Homo sapiens: one gene and its partners. The protein of the gene in region 1 interacts with the protein of each later gene in a pairwise test. Each region holds a gene or a part of one and is shown in the gene's direction. Other genes may lie near its edges. The genes, in order: EHHADH, HIP1, AARS2, LZTFL1, CISD2, CBS and HID1.

Region 1 (3,500 bases):
GCTTGAATCTAGTAAAGTGCGTATCTGTTATAGCTATTTTCATTTTTTTCCTGTTTTTGATATTTGCAAAATTATGAACATAAAAAAGGAAGATAGGTTGAAATGGGAAAAGCTGGTTTCTTCTCCTCAGTGGCACTGATTGAGCTAATTTTGGCTAGTTTTGTAAGCATTGTTTATTCAGAAGGAAATGTGTGCCTTTTGGACTTTTTGATGTTATATAATGGTTCTGAATTTGCTTTTCATGGTCAGATTTGGCTTCTAATTAACCAGCTGAAGCCAAGAGGTTTTGTCTGATTTCATCTAGGTTAAGAGGTGAAAAGTAATTAGGTGTAAGGGAATCATTATAAATAAGGGCAAGTATCCTTTTTATTTCTTGGGGTTTTAACTAATAGTTGTTGGTCTTAACAATATGGCCTTTACAGAAGTTTGTTGTTGTTTGTTTTGTTTTAAAATTTATTTTTAACCCTGTGTACTAAAGAACAGAGATTTTACTCAGAATACTTGGAATTCCAAGGCAAAACTGATTGGAATCTGGTTCTGTGGTTTTTCCTTTTAAGCAGTTCCTCACCACTTGCCCTAGATTCTCTTATTGCTTGGTACTTATTAATCCCCTCCTTCTTCACAAATTTTCTCTCTTGGTCTTTGTGACTTTGAGCTCACTTGCTGAATCACTCTGCTGAGCTTGTCCCACTTCTTAAATGAAGATATATCCAGAGGATCTGCCCTCAGCTCTCTTTTCCTTTGGTAGACTCATTCAGTCTTGGTTTTAGCTATCTCTTCTGCAGATGACTTCCTCATATATTAAAACTTGGCAAAATCTGCTACATGCCCTATCTTTCCACTATCTTGCCTTTATATCTTATCTTAGTTAAGATTACGCTTGGCTGTCACTGACAGAATAGTGAAGATAATAGTGAATTAGACAATAAAAAGCTAATTTCTCTCACAGCAGTGCCCTGGAATGATACAGCTGCTCCACAATCAACAGGGGCCTCAATTATTTTCTCTGTCTATCTCTTGCTCTACCATCCTCAATACATAGCTTCTACCTCCTGATCCAAGGTGGCTGCTCCTGATCTAACCATCACTGGTGCCAGGAATAGGGAGGAAAGAAAAAGGGAAAAGCATACCCAAATCTTTAAGAACTCTTCCCCAAAGTTGCATATACCAAATATGCTTCCATCCCATTGGCTAGAACTTAGTTCCTTGTGCAGACCTTACTGTAAAGCAGGCTGGAAAATATAGTCTTTATTTTGGGCAACCATATTTTTGTGTTAGTCCATTTTCACACTGCTATAAAGACATATCCGAGACTGGGTAATTTATAAAGGAAGGAGGCTTAATTGATCACAGTTCCACATGGCTGGGGAAGCCTGGGGAAACTTACAATCATGGTGGAAGGCAAAGGAGAAGCAAGTACCTTCTTCACAAGGTGGCAGGAGAGAGGCATGAGTGCAGGGGAAACTGCAACTTATAAACCACTAGATCTCCTGAGAATTCCCTCACAGAACAGCAGCAGGGGGAAACCACTGGCATGATCCAATCAACTCCCGCTAGGTCCCTCCCTGACGTGGGGATCACAGTTTGAAATGAAGTTTTGGTGGGGATAAAGAGCCAAACCAGGCTGGGCGCGGTGGCTCACACCTGTAATCCCAGCACTTTGGGAGGCCGAGGTGGGTGGATCACGAGCTCAAGAGATCGAGAACATCCTGGTTAACACGGTGAAACCCCGTCTCTACTAAAAATACAAAAAATTAGCCGGACGTGGTGGCGGGCGCCTGTAGTCCCAGCTACTCAGGAGGCTGAGTCAGGAGAATGGCGTGAACCCGGGAGGCAGAGCTTGCAGTGAGCCCAGATCGCGCCACTGCACTCCAGCCTGGGTGACAGAGCAAGACTCCATTTCAAAAAAAAAAGAGCCAAACCATATCACATATATTCAAGTAAAAACCAAGTGTTTTAATACTATGAAGACGATGGAGAGGAATGGATATTTGAGGTAACTCACAGCCCCCGCCACAGCTCCTAGACTGTTTCTCATTTAATTTTCTTATATTTTAACAATATGAAAAACTGAAAGTAATTTCACCCTTCTCTGAACTTCAACATCACTTTTTCTTTGTACCTTTATTACAGCACTCAGATATCTTAGTGTGCCTTACATGATAAATTATGTACAAGTATTGGATAACTCCTTGTACAATATATAGAAGACATGTAATAATATTTTTAAATTGGTTGGTGTCAATTTTAAGCGGTCAAAGTGAAAGCACAGTGCAGGAAAATTACATTTTTAAAAAGTGGATTAATTTAATCTGGTCAGTGCTTAATTAATCATAGGCATATATATTATTTGTAGAAGAAATTTAATAGTCATAGTAGACATATTATTTGTTGGAAGCTTTATTGAGAAGTATCTACAGTTTTTATCCATTATGTGTGTGTTTAATTTTTCATTTTTAGGAAAGGAAAACACTCTGAATGGTAGGAATTTAATTCTGACTGATTTACTTCATGTATTTTGTTTTCTTTTAGTACGACTTTACTCCGTGACATAAAAGAAGGACTACAGAAAGCTGTAATAGACCATACAATAAAAGCCATTGTGATTTGTGGAGCAGAGGGCAAATTTTCTGCAGGTAACTCAAGTCTAACCCTCTCCCACCATCTCTGGAATCCAGCCACAGACTGAGACCAATACTGCATTAGCTGTGCTTGTTGGTAATAACTTAGTGTAGGTAATGGATATGGCAGACTTGAGTGAGAATGAGTAACACTGTGGAGAAAGGGACAGGAATTACAAGAGAGACCCAGAGAAGGGCTTAGTCTCTTTTATTGTGGATTGGGCTTTTAGAGTATATTTAGTTCCAGACTTGATGGCTGTTATACACCTGCTGATATATACCTGCATTGCATGTATCTCCACCATATGTGGGCTTGGGCAAATCTCTTTAACTTCCTGAACCTCAATTTCTCTATCTATAAAGTGGGAACAATAATATCTATTTTAAGGGGTTTTTGTGACATTAAGCGAGATAACATATCTGAAAGCCTCTACTACAGTACCTACACAAAGAAGATGGTCAATAAATGTTATTGTTTAATTCACACAGAGTCTTATAATAGAATTCATTTTTCTTCCGATAGTCACCCATCTCAGTGACCATGGCACTGCTTTATTGGGTTATTGTGTGAAGATGCAAAATTATTGACAAAATATGGCAAAAGTATGCTGAAATGGTGATTTATTCAATGGCATATATGGCGTCTTTTCCTTAATATTCATACATTATACCCTTTGACAAAAGTCACATGGATATGGGGGCCTATTCAACCTTACTGTAGCCAGAGAAATTTAATATGTGTTAATGGTAGTCTGAAAAGACACAGATGTTAGAATCATGGCAATAAATAAATATAAAAATGTGAATCATTATAATATTACCATTTATCTTGCCTGTTATATGCCAGTACCATGTAGGTTATTTATTAAATAATAATAA
Region 2 (3,500 bases), on another chromosome or scaffold:
TTATGTTTTGTCTTTAAAAAATAAAAATAAAATAAGACACAACAACCACGCTCTTGAATTCTGTGTCTCTTGGGGTAGAAGGCAGGGAGTAAGGGAGATAGAATCAGGGCACATACAAGTTCAAATAGGATTCCAAAGGTATTGATGTTTCTTACAGCATTCCTTAAGTTTTAAGTTGGGTGGTGGATAACATGCGTCTTTATTCTTATCCTTTGAACCATTCATATATATTTTATACCTTAGTATGTATAACACATCATGTTTTAAAAATCATAGGCTTTGCTGTTTGTCAGACCTTAGTTCAAATCCCTGCCCTGCCATTTGTTACCATAACTGTGGTCAAGACGTTCTACCTCTGATCCCTGGCTTCCTATCTGCACAGTAGGAATAATACCCGCCTCATATGATCACTGTGGAAGCAAAGTTAAGTCAGGGTCAAAGTGGAAGATATCATCTGTATTTGAAAAAGTTGTAGGCCAGGTATAGTAATTCAATCCCAGCACATTGGGAAGCCAAGACAGGAGGATCACTTGAGCCCAGGAATTCAAGACCAGCCTGGGCAACATAGTGAGACCCCATCTCTATTAAAAAAAAAAAAAAAACAATTATCCGGGCTTGGTGGTGCACCTCTGTACTCCCAGATACTCTGGTGGTAGAGGTGGGAGAATTGCTTGAGCATGGAAGGTCGAGGCTGCAGTGAGCTATGATCATGCCACTGCACTCCATCTCTGGTGACAGGGCAAGACTGTGTCTCAAAAAAATAAAAAATTAGGGCCAGGTGTGGTGGCTTACACCTGTAATCCCAGCACTTTGGGAGGCTGAGGCAGGAGGATTACCTGAGGTCAGGAGTTTGAGACCAGCCTGGGCAAAATAGTGAAACCCATCTCTACTAAAAATATAAAAATTAGCTGGGCATGGTGGTGCAAACCTGCAATCCCAGCTACTTGGGAGGCTGAGGCAGGATAATCCCTTGAGCCCGGGAGGCGGAGGCTGCAGTGAGCCGAGATTGTGCCACTGTACTCCAGCCTGGGCAACAGATTGAGACTCTGTCTCAAAAAAAAAAAAAAAAGAAAAGAAAAGAAAGAAAGCAAAAGAAAAAGAAAAATTGTAAAAAAATACCTCCTGTGTAGCTAGTACAATTGACACTGCACAACTAAGGGACTGGGGTCTTAGTGGTGGCGGAATGGCCTTGCAGGGGGAGGCAGCGATGGCATTCTGGAAGGAGGTGGATCCTGAGTGAGGAGGAGCATGAGGTTCCAGAGTTTGTGTCACAGAGAGGACAAGATGGGGTCTGCAAAAGACCCCCCCACAACCCCTGTGGCTTGCAGAAGGTGTTTGCTGGGTGGCCTCCTGCCTTGCCATCTTGTAAGGGTTACAGATGGCAGAGGAGAAGAGACAGGAGGCCCCAAGGTCAGTTCAGCCTTTGTGATGTGTTCACAGGAGCTCCTGCCCAGGGGACTGGACATCAAGCAGGAGGAGCTGGGGGACCTGGTGGACAAGGAGATGGCGGCCACTTCAGCTGCTATTGAAACTGCCACGGCCAGAATAGAGGTAGGAGGTTCCTGCAGGATCTCCTGAAACGATGCCTTTGCAGCTGCCCTTCTGCAACACTGCTCATTAAACATGTCACAGTCGTTCATTAAGGCCATGGCAACCCCCTAAGACAGAAACCAGAATTTGCCAGGCACAGTGGCTCATGCCTGTAACCCCAGCACCTTGGGAGGATCACTTGAGTCCAGGAGTTTGAGACCAGCCTGGACATCATAGCAAGACCCCATCTCTACAAAAGATAAAATAATTAGCTGGGCATGGTGGTGCATGCTTATAGTCCCAGCTACTCCAGAGGCTGCAGGAGGATCACTTGAGCCCAGGAATTGGAGGCTACAGTGAGCCATGATTGCACCACTGCACTCTAGCCTGGGTGAGAGAGTGAGACCCTGTCTGTAAAAATGTTTTTAAATTATAAAAAAAAAAAAGAGAGACCAAAATCTGAACTCGCTAGTTTTTCTGAGTGATAGAAAATGAGAAGGTCCTCATGAGAGAAGGTCCTCATGAGAGAAGGTGATTAGTTTCCTCAAGAATCAGATACTTTGGTGTCAGAACATCCTGGGTTCTGGCCAGGCGTGGTGGCTCACGCCTGTATTCCCAGCACTTTGGGAGGCCGAGGCAGGCAGATCATGAGGTCAGGAGTTTGAGACCAGCCTGGACAACATGGTGAAACCTGGTCTCTACTAAACATACAAAAATTAGCTGGGCGTGGTGGCGCGTGCCTGTAATCCCAGCCACTCAGAAGGCTGAGGCAGAAGAATCACTTGAACCCAGGAGGCGGAGGTTGCAGTGAGCCGAGATCGTACCGCTCACTCCAGCCTGGGTGACAGAGTGAGACTCCATCTCAAAACAAAACAAAATGACACGGATCACAGAGCCAGCCCACTGCAGCTGCACTCCCCCTGAATAGGTTAGAGTCTGGATTCTTTTCTGACTCTCTCAAGAATGTGGGCAGGGACTTGGGGACTTCCAGATTCAGGTTTCCCAGCTACCACACGATGTTGGACTGAAAGTATAGTAAGACATTAGTGGATCCTTAATATTCAAGGCACATTTAGAAACCATGCTTCTTTTTCACAGGAGATGCTCAGCAAATCCCGAGCAGGAGACACAGGAGTCAAATTGGAGGTGAATGAAAGGTCGGTCTGAGCGGCATGGTGGGACCTAGGGGAGCAGGATCTGTCTTCCTGACATTGGTCTATACTTTGCATACTTATTAGGGAATTAGAGGAGAGCAGTAGCAGCCACGGGGAAGGGCTGAGTTGATGTAATCATCAATAACAGTATTAATGATGACAGCAATATTGCTGTTTCACTATAGAAAAGAAACCCGCGCGGTAGCTCCCGCCTGTAATCCCAGCACTTTGGGAGGCTGAGGAGGGAGGATCACCTGAGGTCGGGAGTTCGAGACCAGCCTGCCCAATGTGGTGAAAAGTCATCTTTACTAAAAATACAAAAATTAGCCAGGCGTGGTGGTGCATGCATGTAATCCCAGCTACTTTGGAGGCTGAGGCAGGAGAATCACTTGAACCTGGGAGGTGGAGGTTGCAGTGAGCCAAGATCGTGCCTCTGCACTCTAGCCTGGGCGACAGAGCAAGACTCTGTCTCAAAAAAGAAGAAAAGAAGTCCTAGGAATCACAATTTCACTATTCCTTACGATGGAGACCCACAATTAGATCTCTCTCACTCCCCAGCCTCTCCTTCGGTGCCTCCCCGCAGAATGTTCCAGCAACCTCAGCACCCTTCTTACCTCCCTTTCCCATTCCAAGCTTGCCTTTGGCTAGGAGTGGGGAAGAGAACCGTCGTGTTCATTGATCTTGGATCTTGATCTCAGTGTATCCTCGACTTGTTTGTTTGGCAGGATCCTTGGTTGCTGTACCAGCCTCATGCAAGCTATTCAGGTGCTCATCGTGGCCTCTAAGGACCTCCAGAGAGAGATTGTGGAGAGCGGC
Region 3 (3,500 bases), on another chromosome or scaffold:
CACCTATGACACTGACCTCTTTTCCCCGCTGCTCAACGCCATACAGCAGGTGAGTGCCTCTTCCCTTCCAGAAGCCCTCTAACCTGCTCTTCACAGCCCTCAGCCCCATTGCATTCCATCTTTGTTGAGAACTCAGAGTGTTCTCAGCATCTGAGGACAATAACCAACCAAGAATTCCAAGACGTCAAGCAAGACACTAGGATTCATTACTTATTACCTGATGTTCCTCCTAACTCCTTGCCTCTTTCATTTATTTAGAAAATACGTGTTGAGTGCTTACTTTATGTTAAATCCTTTGTGTTTGGTACAGAAGACACAGCAGTAAGCAGGAAAGAGATCATGGAGATTATATGCTAGCATGAGAGATAGACAATCAATAAATGTGTTAAAGAACAAGGTAATAGCTTACAGATTGTGAACAGGCAGTAAACATGGGTGAAAGTAACTAGGAAGAAGGAGGGGTACAGAGGAATCTTAGATAAGGTGCTTGGGGAAGGCTCACCAAGAAGATGACCTTTGAGCTGAGCCCCAAAGGAGGAGTCAGCTACAGGAAGTTCTTTCCAGGCAGAGGGGACAGCAGGTACCAAGGGCCTTGGTACTGATGGATTAGATGGGGAGGGGAAAGAGAAATCAAAGATGGCTCCCAGGCTATTGGCTTGAGCAACACAGTGAATGGCATGACTGTTTACTGAGATGAAGAAGCTTGGGGAAGAGAGAGGTTTGGAGCTAGGTGAATCAAGCTCCCTGCTTTGGAGCATTTCCACATGTGTGTAGCTTATACCCTCCCTCCTTGCCCCGCAAGAAAGGGCTTGACATGTGCCAAAAACTAAAAGGTGGCCAGCCAGCTAAAGGAGAATCCCATGGGATATAGTAGGAACATGTGTCAGTTGGCTTTTGCTGTATAACCACCCTAATGCTCTGTGGCTTAACCAACAACCATGTATCTGCCCCCTGAGTCTGTGAGCTAGCGTTTAGGCTGGGCTTAGCTGGCTCATTCTTTGGTCTTGTGTGAGCTCATTCATCCATCTGTGGTGAGCTGAGAGGCCGCAGCTCCTCTGGGGCTTGGCTGGCTGTCAGTTTGGGGGCAGTAGGGGTGACTGGACCATGTGTCTGTCATCACCTAGCTGGCTAGTCTGGGCTTGTCCACATCACAGCTCAGCAAGGTTCCAAGACAGAGAGCAGACACATAGGCTCAGAACAGTGTTGTTTCCACTGTATTCTATGGGCCAAAGCAAGTCACAAAGCCAGCAGAGATTCAGGGGATGGAGAAATGGATTCTGTCCCTTGATGGGAAACAGCTGTAAAGTCCCATTTTAAAGTGGCATATGCCTAGGAAAGGGCCATTTTTGTGAACAGTCTCACAGAGAAGAAGGCAGAATCCAGTCTTGTGGGCCTCAAAGTCCAAAGTGGGGCCTTGATTCTCAGAGTGGTGAGAAGAGTTCTCAGGGCTGGGCACGGTGGCTCACTCCTGTAATCCCAGCACTTGGGGAGGCAGAGGGGGGCGGATCGCTTGAGGTCAGGAGTTGGAGACCAGCCTGGCCAACATGGCAAAATCCTGTCTCTACTAAAAAAATAGAAAAATCAGCCAGGCATGGTGGCACACACCTGTAGTCCCAGCCACTTGGGAGGCTGAGGCAGGAGAATCTCTTGAACCCAGGAGGTGGAGGTTGCAGTAAGCTGAGATCGTGCTACTGCACTCTAACCTGGGCAACAGAGTGAGAGTTCATCTCAAAAAAAATAAATAAATAAAAGTGTACATCAGATCATGCCACACTCCCCACTGAGAACCCTTCTTTTTTTTTTTTGAGACAGAGTCTTGCTTGCTCTGTTGTCCAGGCTGGAGTGCAGTGGCATGATCTCGGCTCACTGCAACCTCTGCCTCCGGGGCTCAAGCAATTCTCGTGCCTCAGCCTCCAGAGTAGCTGGGATTACAGGCACCCGCCAACACACCTGACTAATTTTTGTATTTTTAGTACAGATGGGGTTTCACCAGGATTGGCCAGGCTGGTCTCAAACTCCTGACCTCAGGTGATCCACCCGCCTCAGCCTCCCAAAGTGTTGAGATTACAGGTGTGAGCCACCGCGCCCAGCCTGATGTACACTTTTAAAAGGCTACTCCTGTTGCTGTGTGGAGGATGAGCTGGAGGGAGATGAGAGCAGAAACTTAGGAATCAGTTGGGAGGCTATTATCGGTCCAGGCAAGGACCACAGGGCATGCTTCGGATAATAGCAGTGGAAGTAGAGACAAGTAGATTGATTTGAGAGATGTCATGGAGGTAGGAGCAAAAGGAACCACTGATGGATCATGACGGGTAGGGGAAAAAGAATTCAAAGATGGCTCCCAGGCTATTGACTTGAGCAACACAGTGAATGGCATGACTGTTAGACGAAGAAGCTTGGGGAAGAGAGAGGTTTGGTGGTAAGTGAATCAAGCTCCCTGCTTTGGAGCATTTCCGTGTATGTAGCTTACACTCTCCCTCCCTGCCCACCCCCACAAAAGATGGGAGAGGCAAGAACAGGTAGTGGAGAGCACCTGGAGTCCAACAGGCCCGGCTGAGATCTCAGATCTGCTCCTTGAGAGCTGGGTAGCCTTGTGTCACTGAGTTCCTCTGAGCCTCAGCTTCTTCTTCTTTAAAGCAAGCATGCTAATACCTCCTGGAATGGGCTGTTTTGGGGATTCGAGGCCATGTTGTTCAAGTACTCACCCAGTTCTGATAGTAGAAATTCAGTAAATGGTCACAGATATGTTCACTTGTAGCACCAAATATGAGCCCCGTGAGGGCAGGGCCTGGCTTGTGCTCATCTGTGAGGCTTCTCAGCCCAGGACTGGACTGGCAAGGCCATTCTGGATGTGGTTGGCTTTAGGGCTGAGGGCAGATGCTCTAGAGGCGATAAAGAGCACCCACCTGGGCCAGGTCAGGCAGGGCCACTGGCTGACTCTTCTGCTTCCCAGGGCTGCAGGGCACCCCCTTACTTGGGCCGAGTAGGGGTGGCAGACGAGGGGCGCACAGACACAGCGTACCGCGTGGTGGCTGACCACATCCGCACACTCAGTGTCTGCATCTCTGATGGCATCTTCCCTGGGATGTCAGGTCCCCCGTGAGTCTGGAAGGGCTACAGAGAGGACAGGGGCTGCTGGGGGTCTCAGGTGGAGGAGGGAGGGAACAGGAGAGGTGGGTCTGGTTGAGCCAGTAGGAGGAATGGGGAGAGGGAGAGCTTTGAGGTGGGAGCACACACTGGACCTCGTCCTTCCCACTCCCCATATTGCTGACCATGAGCCGCTGGGGATTCATGTCTGGGCTCTGAACCCCTTTAGGCTGGTTCTTCGTCGGATCCTGCGTCGAGCTGTGCGTTTCTCCATGGAGATCTTAAAGGCACCACCTGGCTTCCTAGGCAGCCTGGTACCTGTAGTGGTGGAGACACTGGTAAGGACAGAGCTTCTTTTTCACTCTGGGCCTCCCTGGGCACTTTGGGGAGCCTACCACTGAGCCTAGACAGTG
Region 4 (3,500 bases), about 140 Mb from region 1:
CCTCCGAGTAGCGCCTGCCACCACGCCCGGCTAATTTTTTGTATTTTTAGTAGAGATGGGGTTTCACCATGTTAGCCAGGTTGGTCTTGATCTCCTGATCTTGTGATACGCCCGCCTCGGCCTTCCAAAGTGCTGGGATTACAGGTGTGAGCCACCGTGCCCGGCCAAAAATGTAATAGTTTTATTGGGAAAGTAGAACTGATGTTCTAGAAATAGAGACCAGAGAATATTCTCCTGTGTGCTACAGGTGTCATACTGGGTAGCAGAGAAGACTCAGTTGTGTGTGGATAACAGTAGGTGAGAACAGGCTCTTGGGTAAAGGGGTACCTAAGCTGGGCCTTGAAGGATGAAGACCAGTTAAATTGTAGAGGAAAGAGAAGTGAGTGTGTTGGGCAGGAGAACAGAACAGGCAGTGGTCAGACAGGAGGCGGCATGACTTGAAACAGAGTGCAGTGCCCTCTGACTGGGCTGATGTGTTTATTTGAGTCTACTGAAAAATAACACAGATGATTCAAATGTTTGAGCTGTATAAGAACAAAAGTGTTTGGCCTCACCTCAGTCAGAAGCATCTGTGGGCTTGAGCATGGTACTGAAGTGAAGGAGTTCTCAGGATAAGGGGCAACAGTGTGCAGTGTAGGCTGAGAATAGACCCAGGATTTGCAGGACCAGCTAGGAGAAAGTTGGCAGGGAAGCGGGTCTTTGGAAAAAAATTTGAAAACAGAAAACAGAGGACTGAAAGAGGGAAGATGTGTCTGAGAAACTGAAAGAAAAGAAACTAGATGTCTTAGATCCAAAGCTGACTCACAGATACTGAGGCTGATAGGCTGGATGAAATTGGGATATTACCAAAATATCAGTAGTACATTTTTGAGCTATTATGTAATTTAAATTTAAAAATTAGATTTTTAAGTGAAACAAGTAATAATTTCAAATATTAAAATATTTTGGTTAATATAATAAAATTTGAATTTACTCACAAAGGAAATTTTAAGACTTCAAGAAGAGAATGAGAAATTGAAGTCAAGGTTGAAGACCATTGAAATACAGGTAACTGAGAAATGTTTTGACACAATTATTGAACTGCCTACAGATTAAATACTGAAAGTGTTTTGTTTAAACTTCACTATAGGCTACAAATGCACTGGATGAAAAGTCAAAACTAGAAAAAGCACTGCAAGATTTACAGCTTGATCAAGGAAATCAAAAGGTGAAACAAGTTTTAGCTACCTTTCTCACATTTTCTAAGTAGAATGAAGTTATAAACTTAAAATTAAGTCTTAGTTACTGCTCACTGTACCCCACCCCTGCTACTCCCTGAGACAAATGCCTCTATTGTCATGTGTTGGGACATTCTTGCCCCCAAAAGGCCTGGTGAGAACCAGTGACCTTCCCTCTGTCCATCCTCTAGGGCAGAGGGGACAGTACATAGCTCACACACCTGCAGTTTCCCTGGCATGCAAGATATTCTCACATTTATTTTTTAAGTTTTTCTACAATCTTCCTGGTATGCAAGATATTCTCACTTTTTTTTTTTAAGTTTCCCCTCTCACTTTGACATCCAATTACAGTGGAGGGGAAAGAAAATGAAAAGAAAAGTTTTTAATTGGTTTATATTTGGGTTTTATTATACTGAACATTACTTAAGTTTGCCTTTGATGAGTGTGACAAAATGATTATGAATCTGCAGATGCGTCTGTACCCGCCGGCACCATAGAGTACAATGAAATCCAGTGTTGTAGTTCTTCATGCTTGTCTGAATGTAATGACTGAATGTCACTCCGCCTGCGGGAAGTCATTGTATGTACAGTCTGTCTCCTGTGGACTTTCTGTTGAGTGTGCATGCTGCAGTATGATTTCCTGTGAGCAGGACCATTTGGGTAGATATTCAGTACAGCATTGGCTTTTCTAGTGGTCATACTCTCATTGCAAATGTCTGGTAAACAAACCCAAAATCTGCTTCACTGGGCTTTTGCTAATCTTTTCTCTATGAAAAATTTCAAACATACACAAAAGTAGAGAGAATAGTATAATGAACCCCCATGCACTCTTCACTCTATTTAGCAGTTACCAATGCATGGCCAGTCTGGTTTCATTTGTACCTCTACTTTCTTCTTCCCACCAGCCATGTTTTTTTGAAGCAAATCTCAGACGTTGAACCATTTTATCTGTAGATATTTTTAAAATAGGAGGATACTTCTTATATAGCTAATGATTTTCAACCATTATATGCCAATGACAATAGATTTATAAAAACACGAATGTTCCAGAACCGCTTTATAATTTCTCCTAAGTCAAACAATTGCAAACACATGTGGCTGATGAATTTGTTTAAAAGCTTTTTGGGGCTTTGCTCCAATTTTACTTTAAGATTTTGGACACAAGAACAACCAGTGAATACGTGCTTTTATTAGTTGCAATGAAAATCTTTTTTTCAAAGACCAGATTTCAAAAATGAGGAAAGATTTTTTTTTTCTTCTGTTGAAAGTACTTTTTTTTTTTTTTTTTTTTTTTCTTTTGAGACAGGGCCTTATTCTGTTTCCCATGCTGGAGTGCGGTGGTGCAACCATGGCTCACTACAACCTTGACCTCACCGGCTCAAGCGATCCTCCCACCTCAGCCTCCCAAGTGGTTGGGACCACAGGCATGTGCCACCATGCCTGGCTAATTTTTTATATTTTTTGTAGAGACGGGGTCTTGCTCTGTTGCCCAGGCTGGTCTCAATTTCCTGGGCTCAAGTAGTCCTCCTCCCTTGGCCTCCTAAAGTATTGGAATTACAGGCGTGAGAGCCACTTGAAAGTACTAAGTATTTCTTCATCTACATATTAACCAATTGTAGACCATTTTACTGTCTTATCAGTACAAATGTTTTTTCTGTCATGAATCTTATCCAGTCAAAAACAAGATCCAGGAAGAGAGAAGATCCAGTGCCTGTCTTATGCTATAGTTGTCAAAGTATGCAAAAATTACACATATCTCATGAATATAAAAAACTTAAAATCTTAAAAATTTAGAAAACCATGTAATCAGTAATTGTGCTCTCATATTATTTCCTTGTAAATAATGACTAAAACATATGTCTATTAAGTTTTTGGTATAAATTATATTACTTTTATCATTTTTTCTATCATTTTGAAGAATTCAAACTTCTTTGAGGATTTTTTTAAATTTGGCTTTTCAAAATGAAACCTGTTTGCCATCTCAACCCTGGTACACACATCTTGGATGGAAATACCAGCAGTTCACAAATCATATTTTATGTATTTGGAATTCAGTGGCTACTGAGTGTCGGCTGTGTGCAAGACACCACGTACCCAGGGCTGACAATGGACTGGCCTGCTGGTGACTCTGAAGGGGCTGGCACTTACCTAGGCTGGCAAGGGAGGCTGGCATGCACACAAAACATACATCATTTTTTTCATCTCCTATGATGTTGAATCACCATTCTAAAACAGTTATTTTTAGAATATCAACATGAAATTACATGCATGCATTTATTTTTC
Region 5 (3,500 bases), on another chromosome or scaffold:
GAAGTTGAAGCTGGAAAGGTAGCCTTGCCATTCTTTGGAGATGGCACCTTATAGAGCCAATGATCTATAGTAGCATTGTCCAGTAAAACTTTGTGGTAATGGAAATGTTCTCTGTACTGTTCAATATGGTAGTCAGTAGTCACATGTAGCTAGCTATTGAGCCTCTGAAAGGTTACCAGTGTGTCTTAGAAACAGCATTTTACATTTTACTTAATTTTAATTTATTTACATGTGAATAGCCACATGTGTTTGTTTTGTTTTGTTTTGTTTTTGAGACAGAGTCTTGCTCTTGTCACCCAGGCTGGAGTGCAATGGCATGATCTCGGCTCACTGCAACCCCTGCCTCCTGAATTCAAGCGATTCTCCTGCCTCAGCCTCCCAGGTAGCTGGAATTACAGGCGCCTGCCACCACGCCTGGATAATTTTTTGTATTTTTATTAGAGACGGGGTTTCGCCATGTTGGCCAGGCTGGTCTTGAACTCCTAACCTCGTGATCTGCCCTCCTCAGCCTCCCAAAGTGTTGGGATTATAGGCATGAGCCACCACGCCCACATGTGTATATTAACCGTGTTTTCAATTTTCTGTATTTTATTATGCTTTAATATCTTAGGAGCCTTGTTGGCTGTGGAGACAATTTAATTCCTAGAGATACTAAATAACTTGCCTGTGAGCATGCCTTTCATATGCAAACCAACCAATCCAAAGCCCATGCCCCCAACCACCTCCTTTATCTAACCCTTACACATGAAGTCAGTATTTCTCCAGTCAATATTTCTCCTGCCCTAAGTCACCCCAGGGACAGGTAGGAGACGACTAGGGACCACTACTTTTGCCCAGAACCCACTGAAATTATTCAAGCTAGCCAGTCCTGAACAGTTTCCTGCCTTGCCTTTTCCATGGAAACCACAGTAAAGGCCTGTGCCCATGCTTTTTCCCTTTCCTCTTTCTTCCTCCTGATCAACCCTAGTACCTCTCATGTGGCCCTGCATTGCATAGTGTATCCTCTCCTCTTGGGAACTATAAGTAATAAACTGTTATTTCAAGACAGTTTCTACAAGTCTGTTGGGTACAAATCTAAACAGTATGGCTAGTGGTGCCCATATTGAATAGCACAGATCTTATACCTAGGCCTCCTTCTCCCCGCAAAAACAGTTCTGTGTTATCTCCAGAGCTTTAATTCACTCAAAGAACCTATTTGGAGTGTCTCCACTTTGGTTATGAGAATGTAACAGCCAGCATGGCAGACAAAGTTCATACTTTTACAGAGTTTTATTCTGGTAACTACAAGATTATATTCCTGAAGATTTTTGCCCATATAGCATTGTCAAGTTATTTGGCAAAATATTTTTTTCAAAGGAGTTGCTAGTACTTCCTCACCAATCTCTATAATCTCTGAATAAAAGCTACCATTTATTGTGTCTTTTTTGCCAGCCACTCTTATAGGTGCTATCTATGAAAATGGTAGATAAATAGGTTTTTTCATTTAGATTTCTTTGGCATGATGTTATATCAAAAATAATTCCATTTTGGAAGAGTTCATATTGTCTTTCTTTCAATAGTTAAATAGTACTATTATCTCCTGAGAGTAGTTTTACCAAGATAGGCACAGATTTTAATTTTAGATCTATTGGGTTTGATTCATGATAACTGACAACAGGCTTTGGATTTAGGGTGTCCTGGACTAAACCTGCTTAGGCTACAGTTTTCTCACATGTAAAATGGGGATAATAATGATACCTACCACATATAGTTGTTTAAGCTAACATAGTGTTAAATGAGCTAGTGCCCTTATACTCTTAGCATAACCTGTTCATTTATCTTTAATGTTTATTAGCATGAGTTAGCATATTATTTTCTGTTTTTCTCTTTTCTCAACTAAGCTATTTCCACATAGTGCCTAGCAAGGTATCAGATTCGGCATTCAGTGAAGGAAGTTAACTGGTAATTCTATAAGAACAGAAAAGAGCCCAGCAGAGGCAGGGTGCTAGCAGACATTTGATAAATGTATGTTGAAATGTTTATCTTGGTTTCCTGGTATTTTTGTGTCCACATGCATAGGGACTGTTTCATTTGTATCACTTATATTCCCTGTCCCCTTAAGACAGGCTAGGTACTCCAAAAGGCTTTAAATGAAGTTTATGGAATTAGATATATCTTAAAATGAGAACATTCAACATAGAAGGTTTCAATTTGTTCTTTAAAATAGTAGCTTTTACACAAAATTTCAGTGTTCTTTAGCAACATTTACCAAAAATGTACCTTAAAGCATCAGAGGACATGTTCTCTCTGATATTATGAATCAGTGGTAAAAATTCTGCAGATATTCTGTTGTATGATTTTGACATAGTATTAAGGAGATAAAATGTTTTCTTAACTTATAAAATATACATTGAATTTTGTTTATAGTTATAGTGATCATAACTCCTAAAATAAAAATAGACAAACACAAATAGACTTGATGTAGACAATGAGATAGGATATTTGAAATGGAACCTATTTCTGAAAAGTTAGGTTTCTAGTTTCACTGGTCTCAAATTATAAATAAAGTAAGGTGGTCTTTGGTAGAGCTGGCTTTATTGTGTTATTTATTCACAGTTTTATGGATCCATTAAAAAGGAATTAATGTAAAAAGTAACAAAGAATAAGCTCAAGGATGAAACTAGACATGCTATTTTGAATTCTTTTCCAAGAGCACTGCAGATTCTGACACATCTACATGTTTAGTTTCAGAATGGCTTCGGTTATTGCCTTTCCTTGGTGTACTCGCACTTCTTGGCTACCTTGCAGTTCGTCCATTCCTCCCGAAGAAGAAACAACAGAAGGATAGCTTGATTAATCTTAAAATACAAAAGGAAAATCCGAAAGTAGTGAATGAAATAAACATTGAAGATTTGTGTCTTACTAAAGCAGCTTATTGTAGGTGTTGGCGTTCTAAAACGGTAAGATGTCTGTTTACGTGTACACTAAAATTTTGCAGTGCTAGGATTGTTTCGCCTCTTAAATCCCCAGTTTTGAAGTTCTTTAAGATGAGAGAATTTTCTGTAATATTTGGTATTGAAAGACCATATTCCTAAATTGAAGTTTTCATGTCATGATAGATACTACCTACATTAGAAAAGTTGGAGCAGCAAAGAAGAATAAAAATCTAATGCCTTCGCAATGTTTGGCATTTATGTAGAGTAACATGTATTTTAAAATACACATTCTTTGAGAGAGGACCTAAGGTTTAATGGAAAAAAGCTTTGGTGTCATAGTAAATAGTGGTCAAATATACTTGTCACAGTATGAGTTTGGTTGGACAAGTTACTTAATTTTTAATCTCTAATCTTCAGGGTTTGTTTTAACCTGATACATCCACATTACATATCTTTGAGAAGTGAGATGATATATGTAAACTGCTTTAATAATATGAGGTAGTAAATGATAGCCTCAATTATAGATGATTTTTAATGTGGGAAGGAGTTTGGAGTGATAAGTACTATAAGTAGTTGACAAAATCT
Region 6 (3,073 bases), on another chromosome or scaffold:
CCCAAGACCTAAAATACCACCAGCTGGCCCTTGTCGGAAAGTCCCCTGGCTGGCCCTAGTCCATTGACTCTGGGCCGAGCTGCCAGGGCCACAGAAGCCTGCGGCACTCAGGGCTCCCAGGGCTCCCTTCTCCAACAGTTGCTGTGCCTCCGTTTCCCCAAAATGCAAGGAGCTGATCTCATCTGTGTTCCCTATCTTTTCCTGGGGCTCTAAGTGGGCCACCCCAAGGGACCTCTGCCTACAAAGAGAGGAGTGACAGCCGTGGCGGAGTTGGGACGGGCTCCGAGGGCTCTTCCTCACCCGCACCTTGCTCACCCCTCTGTGCCTCATGACAGCTGGTGTAGGGTCCTGTGGAGACGCAGGACCAAGAGGATGTGTGGGGAGCGGGGAGAGAGAGGGAACGAGATCTGTGTTAAGGAACTGGATCATGAGATCACGGAGGCTGACAAACCCTGAGATCTGCAGGGTGAGGCGGCAGGCCGGAGACTGGAGAGCCAGCAGTTCAAGCCCCAAGGCAGGAAATTCCACCTTTGGTTCTATTCAGGCCTTCAACTGCTTGGGTGAGGCCCTCCACAGTAGCACACGTTATCTGCCTCTTGACTCTTGTGCTAATCCGGAATCCCCTCACACATGCCCAGAACGACGTGTGACCAATGCCTGGGCTCCCACGGCCCCGTTAATCTGTATTAAAATTAACCATCACAACAGCCCTGTCTGGGTATGTGGCATGGGAGCCTCGGCCAGCATTAACACCGGGTCTACGCTTGCCAGGAGAAAGCAGGAGGGGTGAAGACAGAATCAGGCCAGAGATGGAAGCTGTGTGCTGCCCATGGTGGCAAGGGGTTTTTGTCTGTTTTTAGAGACAGGGTCTTGCTCTGTTGCCGACTGGAGTGCAGTAGTGCCATCATAGCTCGCTGCAGCCTCGACCTGCTGTGCTCAACTGATCCTTCTGCCTCAGTCTCCCAAGTAGCTGGGACCACAAGCGTGTGCCACCATGCTCGACTAATTTATTTTTAAAAATATTCTGTAGAGACAGGGTCTCAATATGTTGCCCAGGCTGGTCCCAGACTTCCGGGCTTAAATGATCCTCCCACCTTGGCCTCCCACAGCGCTGGGATCACAGGTGTGAGCCACTGTGCCCGGCCCTGTAAGCGGGTTTGAATTTCATGCCCACACCGGCTCTGAAGTCATGAGTGCCTCAGGAGCTCAGCCGGTGGGCCAGGGAAGGGTGTGTCCTGACCTGCGGTGGGTGGAGCCTGGCCTGGGGCCCAGGGGACTCACGTGGTGGGTAGAACCTGGCCTGGGGGCTCATGGGGCTCATGTCAGAAGAACACTGGCTTGGCCAGGCACAGTGGCTCACGCCTGTAATCCCAGCACTTTGGGAGCCGAGGCAAGTGGATCACTTGAGGTCAGGAGTTCAAGGCCAGCCTGGCCAACATGGCAAAACCCCATCTCTACTAAAAATACAAAAATTAGCTGGGTGTGGTGATGTGCACCTGAAGTCCCAGATACTCGGGAGTCTGAGGCACGAGAATCACTTGAACCCAGGAGGTGGAGGTTGCAGTGAGCCAAGACTGCACCACTGCACTCCAGCCTAGGGGACAGAGTGAGGCCCTGTCTCAGAAAAAAAAAAAGGAACACAGCCTTCGCCGCTGGGCTCCAGCCACCCTGGGCCCCCATGGTGCACAGGTGCCCCAGGCCCTCAGGAGCCTCCTGCCCCGCAGCAGCCCACCCAGCCTCCCACGGCACCTGCAAACCCACTGCCTCGTTCTCCCCTCAGACCACAGCACCGGGAAGTCCAGTCAGCGGCAGATGGTGTTCGGGGTGGTCACCGCCATTGACTTGCTGAACTTCGTGGCCGCCCAGGAGCGGGACCAGAAGTGAAGTCCGGAGCGCTGGGCGGTGCGGAGCGGGCCCGCCACCCTTGCCCACTTCTCCTTCGCTTTCCTGAGCCCTAAACACACGCGTGATTGGTAACTGCCTGGCCTGGCACCGTTATCCCTGCACACGGCACAGAGCATCCGTCTCCCCTCGTTAACACATGGCTTCCTAAATGGCCCTGTTTACGGCCTATGAGATGAAATATGTGATTTTCTCTAATGTAACTTCCTCTTAGGATGTTTCACCAAGGAAATATTGAGAGAGAAGTCGGCCAGGTAGGATGAACACAGGCAATGACTGCGCAGAGTGGATTAAAGGCAAAAGAGAGAAGAGTCCAGGAAGGGGCGGGGAGAAGCCTGGGTGGCTCAGCATCCTCCACGGGCTGCGCCGTCTGCTCGGGGCTGAGCTGGCGGGAGCAGTTTGCGTGTTTGGGTTTTTTAATTGAGATGAAATTCAAATAACCTAAAAATCAATCACTTGAAAGTGAACAATCAGCGGCATTTAGTACATCCAGAAAGTTGTGTAGGCACCACCTCTGTCACGTTCTGGAACATTCTGTCATCACCCCGTGAAGCAATCATTTCCCCTCCCGTCTTCCTCCTCCCCTGGCAACTGCTGATCGACTTTGTGTCTCTGTTGTCTAAAATAGGTTTTCCCTGTTCTGGACATTTCATATAAATGGAATCACACAATTGTGGCCTCGTGTCTAACTTATTTCACTTTGCATGGTATTTTCAGGCATGTCAGAGCACGTGTACTTGGTTTCTTTTTGTGGCCGAATAATAAGCCATTGTGTGGATAGACCACATTTTGGTTCCTCATTTATCGGTGATGGACACCTGGTTGTTTCTGCTTTTCAGCCCTTGTGAGTAACCTGCTGTGCACCTTCATGGCCGAGTATGTCTGGACACCTCTTTTCACTTTTCTTGGGTGTGTACCCAGGAGTGGCATTGCTGGTTAATGTGGTAACTCCATGTTTAATTTTTTTTTTTTTTTTTTTTTGAGATGGAGTCTTGCTCTGTTGCCAGGCTGGAGTACAATGGCACAATCTCGGCTCACTGCAACCTCCACCTCCTGGGTTCAAGCGATTCTCCTGCCTCAGCCTCCCGAGTAGCCAGGATTACAAGTGTGCACCACTGTGCCTGGCTAATTTTTGTATTTTTGTAGAGACAGGGTTTTACCATGTTGGCCA
Region 7 (2,759 bases), on another chromosome or scaffold:
GAGGGACCCTGTGCCAGGCGAGCGGGGGCTGGGGTTTGGGCAGATGGTACTGAGGCGGGAGCTGGGTTGGGGCTCCTTGGCCCAGGGAAGCTCAGTGAAGATGGCAAGATGTCCGAATCAAAGGACCCTAGCATAGAAGCCTGACTCTGGGTCGGTCCTTCCGGCTGGTGACATCCCATGTGTTCAGCCTCTCTGGCTCGGTTGCTTCCTCTGTCTACACTGTTGCCAGAGTCCCCAGCAGGATTAAGCTCCAGGTGCCCACAGTGCTCTCTTCCTTAATAAATCACTCTTTCCGACTTCCTCCCCTGAATCTCATCCCCACGCCCTGTGTCTCCTGAGATCACGCCAGTTGCGCTGGGACAGGGATAATTACCGTCCCTGCCTGACCACGCTGTTGTGAGGGCTAAAGGCCACAGTCTCCCGAGAGGCACGTGGCACAGCTCTGGCTTAACGCGGGGCCATGGCGCTTGCCATCAATAAGGATTAACTCTTCCCGGGTCCTGCTTGGTGCCAGGCTCATGCTGCAAGGAGCAGGGGTACTTTCTGCCTTGGGGAGCCTGTGGTTCTGGGTCAGGGTCAGGCTTGCCCCGCAGCCTCCGGGGGCTGCTTTCTCAGCCCCAGGAACCCCGTCCCTCGCCAGGTCCTCTCCTGGAAGTCGAAGCTGCCGCTGCAGACCATCATGAGGCTGCTGCAGGTGCTGGTTCCGCAGGTGGAGAAGATCTGCATTGACAAGTGAGTCGGGCGCCGGCAGGGCCGGGGGTTGTGGGCGGGGCCGGGGTTGTGGGCGGGGCCGGTGGTGTGGGCAGGTGGGCTCTGGGCGGGGCCAGCCTAGGCTTAGGTAGGCGTGTGATGGGAAACATGGGTCTTGGGTGGCCAGGGTGAGCCCCGTGCTCCCCTGGACCACGTGAGTGTGCTGGAGATACCCCTCTCCCCGCAGGGGCCTGACGGATGAGTCTGAGATCCTGCGGTTCCTGCAGCATGGCACCCTGGTGGGGCTGCTGCCCGTGCCCCACCCCATCCTCATCCGCAAGTACCAGGCCAACTCGGGCACTGCCATGTGGTTCCGCACCTACATGTGGGGCGTCATCTATCTGAGGTGGGCCCCGGGGAGTGGGGTGGTGTCCACCTGAGAGCCTGCCCAGCAGGGCTCAACAGGGACCTCAGCTCTGGGCCCCACCACCTATGGTGGACTTCATGTCAAGACAGTCAACTAAGGCGGCCTTGCCTGGTTGACGGTGGCACCCGCTGCCCAGGGTGGGACATCGGGATGGAAAGGGTTGGCTTGGCCATTCCTGCTGCCCAGCTCCTCCTGGTGCCTTGTCTGCAAGGTGCCCCAGCACCTGGGTAACCCCCCATTTCCTCCACAGGAATGTGGACCCCCCTGTCTGGTACGACACCGACGTGAAGCTGTTTGAGATACAGCGGGTGTGAGGATGAAGCCGACGAGGGGCTCAGTCTAGGGGAAGGCAGGGCCTTGGTCCCTGAGGCTTCCCCCATCCACCATTCTGAGCTTTAAATTACCACGATCAGGGCCTGGAACAGGCAGAGTGGCCCTGAGTGTCATGCCCTAGAGACCCCTGTGGCCAGGACAATGTGAACTGGCTCAGATCCCCCTCAACCCCTAGGCTGGACTCACAGGAGCCCCATCTCTGGGGCTATGCCCCCACCAGAGACCACTGCCCCCAACACTCGGACTCCCTCTTTAAGACCTGGCTCAGTGCTGGCCCCTCAGTGCCCACCCACTCCTGTGCTACCCAGCCCCAGAGGCAGAAGCCAATGGGTCACTGTGCCCTAAGGGGTTTGACCAGGGAACCACGGGCTGTCCCTTGAGGTGCCTGGACAGGGTAAGGGGGTGCTTCCAGCCTCCTAACCCAAAGCCAGCTGTTCCAGGCTCCAGGGGAAAAAGGTGTGGCCAGGCTGCTCCTCGAGGAGGCTGGGAGCTGGCCGACTGCAAAAGCCAGACTGGGGCACCTCCCGTATCCTTGGGGCATGGTGTGGGGTGGTGAGGGTCTCCTGCTATATTCTCCTGGATCCATGGAAATAGCCTGGCTCCCTCTTACCCAGTAATGAGGGGCAGGGAAGGGAACTGGGAGGCAGCCGTTTAGTCCTCCCTGCCCTGCCCACTGCCTGGATGGGGCGATGCCACCCCTCATCCTTCACCCAGCTCTGGCCTCTGGGTCCCACCACCCAGCCCCCCGTGTCAGAACAATCTTTGCTCTGTACAATCGGCCTCTTTACAATAAAACCTCCTGCTCCACATTCTGACTCTGTGGTTGAGGCGAGGGGCCAGGTGTGGCTCTTGTCTTCAGGGGAGCTGGGGACTCTGCACCCCAGAGGGCCCCCAGTGCATGACTGGGAACCAGCATTTGTTATTTTCTTGGGTGGGAAAGCAGGATCAGACCCTGTCACCTAGGGTTTGGGCCCCTGGGCTGTTGCTGCCCAGAGAAAGAGCCCACAGGAGAGGCCATGGGGCCTCACCAGGCAGCCACTGAGACAGCGCTGGGAGGGCTATGCTTGCTAGTGACTCACTTCGGTGGGGGTGGGTGAGGAGGAGGGCAGAGCCTCACCTGCAGGGCCAGGGCTGCCCTCTCTGGCCTCGTCCCAGGCAGAGCCCACTGTTTGCACTGGGCTCAGGGAGACGGATGGCCTGCCACACCTGCCCTTTCTCTTCCGTTCCTGCCCTACCTGATGGCTCAGGAGATGAGCCAGGCCTGGGACCGGCAGCCAGGGGCCACAGCCTGCATGGTGAGCCCGCTGCA

Evidence for each region.
Region 2: the proteins of EHHADH (region 1) and HIP1 interact in binary tests that used the Homo sapiens proteins (3 or more experiments, as listed by UniProt).
Region 3: the proteins of EHHADH (region 1) and AARS2 interact in binary tests that used the Homo sapiens proteins (3 or more experiments, as listed by UniProt).
Region 4: the proteins of EHHADH (region 1) and LZTFL1 interact in binary tests that used the Homo sapiens proteins (3 or more experiments, as listed by UniProt).
Region 5: the proteins of EHHADH (region 1) and CISD2 interact in binary tests that used the Homo sapiens proteins (3 or more experiments, as listed by UniProt).
Region 6: the proteins of EHHADH (region 1) and CBS interact in binary tests that used the Homo sapiens proteins (3 or more experiments, as listed by UniProt).
Region 7: the proteins of EHHADH (region 1) and HID1 interact in binary tests that used the Homo sapiens proteins (3 or more experiments, as listed by UniProt).

The regions. Positions count from the first base shown.
Region 1 is NC_000003.12:185,247,550-185,251,049, reverse strand, and holds part of EHHADH (peroxisomal bifunctional enzyme), read left to right. Parts: intron 1-2,532; coding exon 2,533-2,636; intron 2,637-3,500. UniProt on the Homo sapiens protein: Peroxisomal trifunctional enzyme possessing 2-enoyl-CoA hydratase, 3-hydroxyacyl-CoA dehydrogenase, and delta 3, delta 2-enoyl-CoA isomerase activities. Catalyzes two of the four reactions of the long chain fatty acids peroxisomal beta-oxidation pathway.
Region 2 is NC_000007.14:75,546,942-75,550,441, reverse strand, and holds part of HIP1 (huntingtin-interacting protein 1), read left to right. Parts: intron 1-1,440; coding exon 1,441-1,551; intron 1,552-2,628; coding exon 2,629-2,687; intron 2,688-3,409; coding exon 3,410-3,500. UniProt on the Homo sapiens protein: Plays a role in clathrin-mediated endocytosis and trafficking. Involved in regulating AMPA receptor trafficking in the central nervous system in an NMDA-dependent manner. Regulates presynaptic nerve terminal activity.
Region 3 is NC_000006.12:44,306,848-44,310,347, reverse strand, and holds part of AARS2 (alanine--tRNA ligase, mitochondrial), read left to right. Parts: coding exon 1-49; intron 50-2,906; exon of another isoform or gene 2,907-2,953; coding exon 2,954-3,099; exon of another isoform or gene 3,100-3,114; intron 3,115-3,272; exon of another isoform or gene 3,273-3,316; coding exon 3,317-3,425; intron 3,426-3,500. UniProt on the Homo sapiens protein: Catalyzes the attachment of alanine to tRNA(Ala) in a two-step reaction: alanine is first activated by ATP to form Ala-AMP and then transferred to the acceptor end of tRNA(Ala). Also edits incorrectly charged tRNA(Ala) via its editing domain.
Region 4 is NC_000003.12:45,828,620-45,832,119, reverse strand, and holds part of LZTFL1 (leucine zipper transcription factor-like protein 1), read left to right. Parts: intron 1-981; coding exon 982-1,047; intron 1,048-1,129; coding exon 1,130-1,207; intron 1,208-3,500. UniProt on the Homo sapiens protein: Regulates ciliary localization of the BBSome complex. Together with the BBSome complex, controls SMO ciliary trafficking and contributes to the sonic hedgehog (SHH) pathway regulation. May play a role in neurite outgrowth. May have tumor suppressor function.
Region 5 is NC_000004.12:102,882,492-102,885,991, forward strand, and holds part of CISD2 (CDGSH iron-sulfur domain-containing protein 2), read left to right. Parts: intron 1-2,557; exon of another isoform or gene 2,558-2,724; coding exon 2,725-2,939; intron 2,940-3,500. UniProt on the Homo sapiens protein: Regulator of autophagy that contributes to antagonize BECN1-mediated cellular autophagy at the endoplasmic reticulum.
Region 6 is NC_000021.9:43,052,691-43,055,763, reverse strand, and holds the end of CBS (cystathionine beta-synthase), read left to right. Parts: intron 1-1,780; coding exon 1,781-1,884; 3' UTR 1,885-2,573; downstream 2,574-3,073. UniProt on the Homo sapiens protein: Hydro-lyase catalyzing the first step of the transsulfuration pathway, where the hydroxyl group of L-serine is displaced by L-homocysteine in a beta-replacement reaction to form L-cystathionine, the precursor of L-cysteine.
Region 7 is NC_000017.11:74,950,242-74,953,000, reverse strand, and holds the end of HID1 (protein HID1), read left to right. Parts: intron 1-640; coding exon 641-732; intron 733-937; coding exon 938-1,096; intron 1,097-1,367; coding exon 1,368-1,431; 3' UTR 1,432-2,259; downstream 2,260-2,759. UniProt on the Homo sapiens protein: May play an important role in the development of cancers in a broad range of tissues.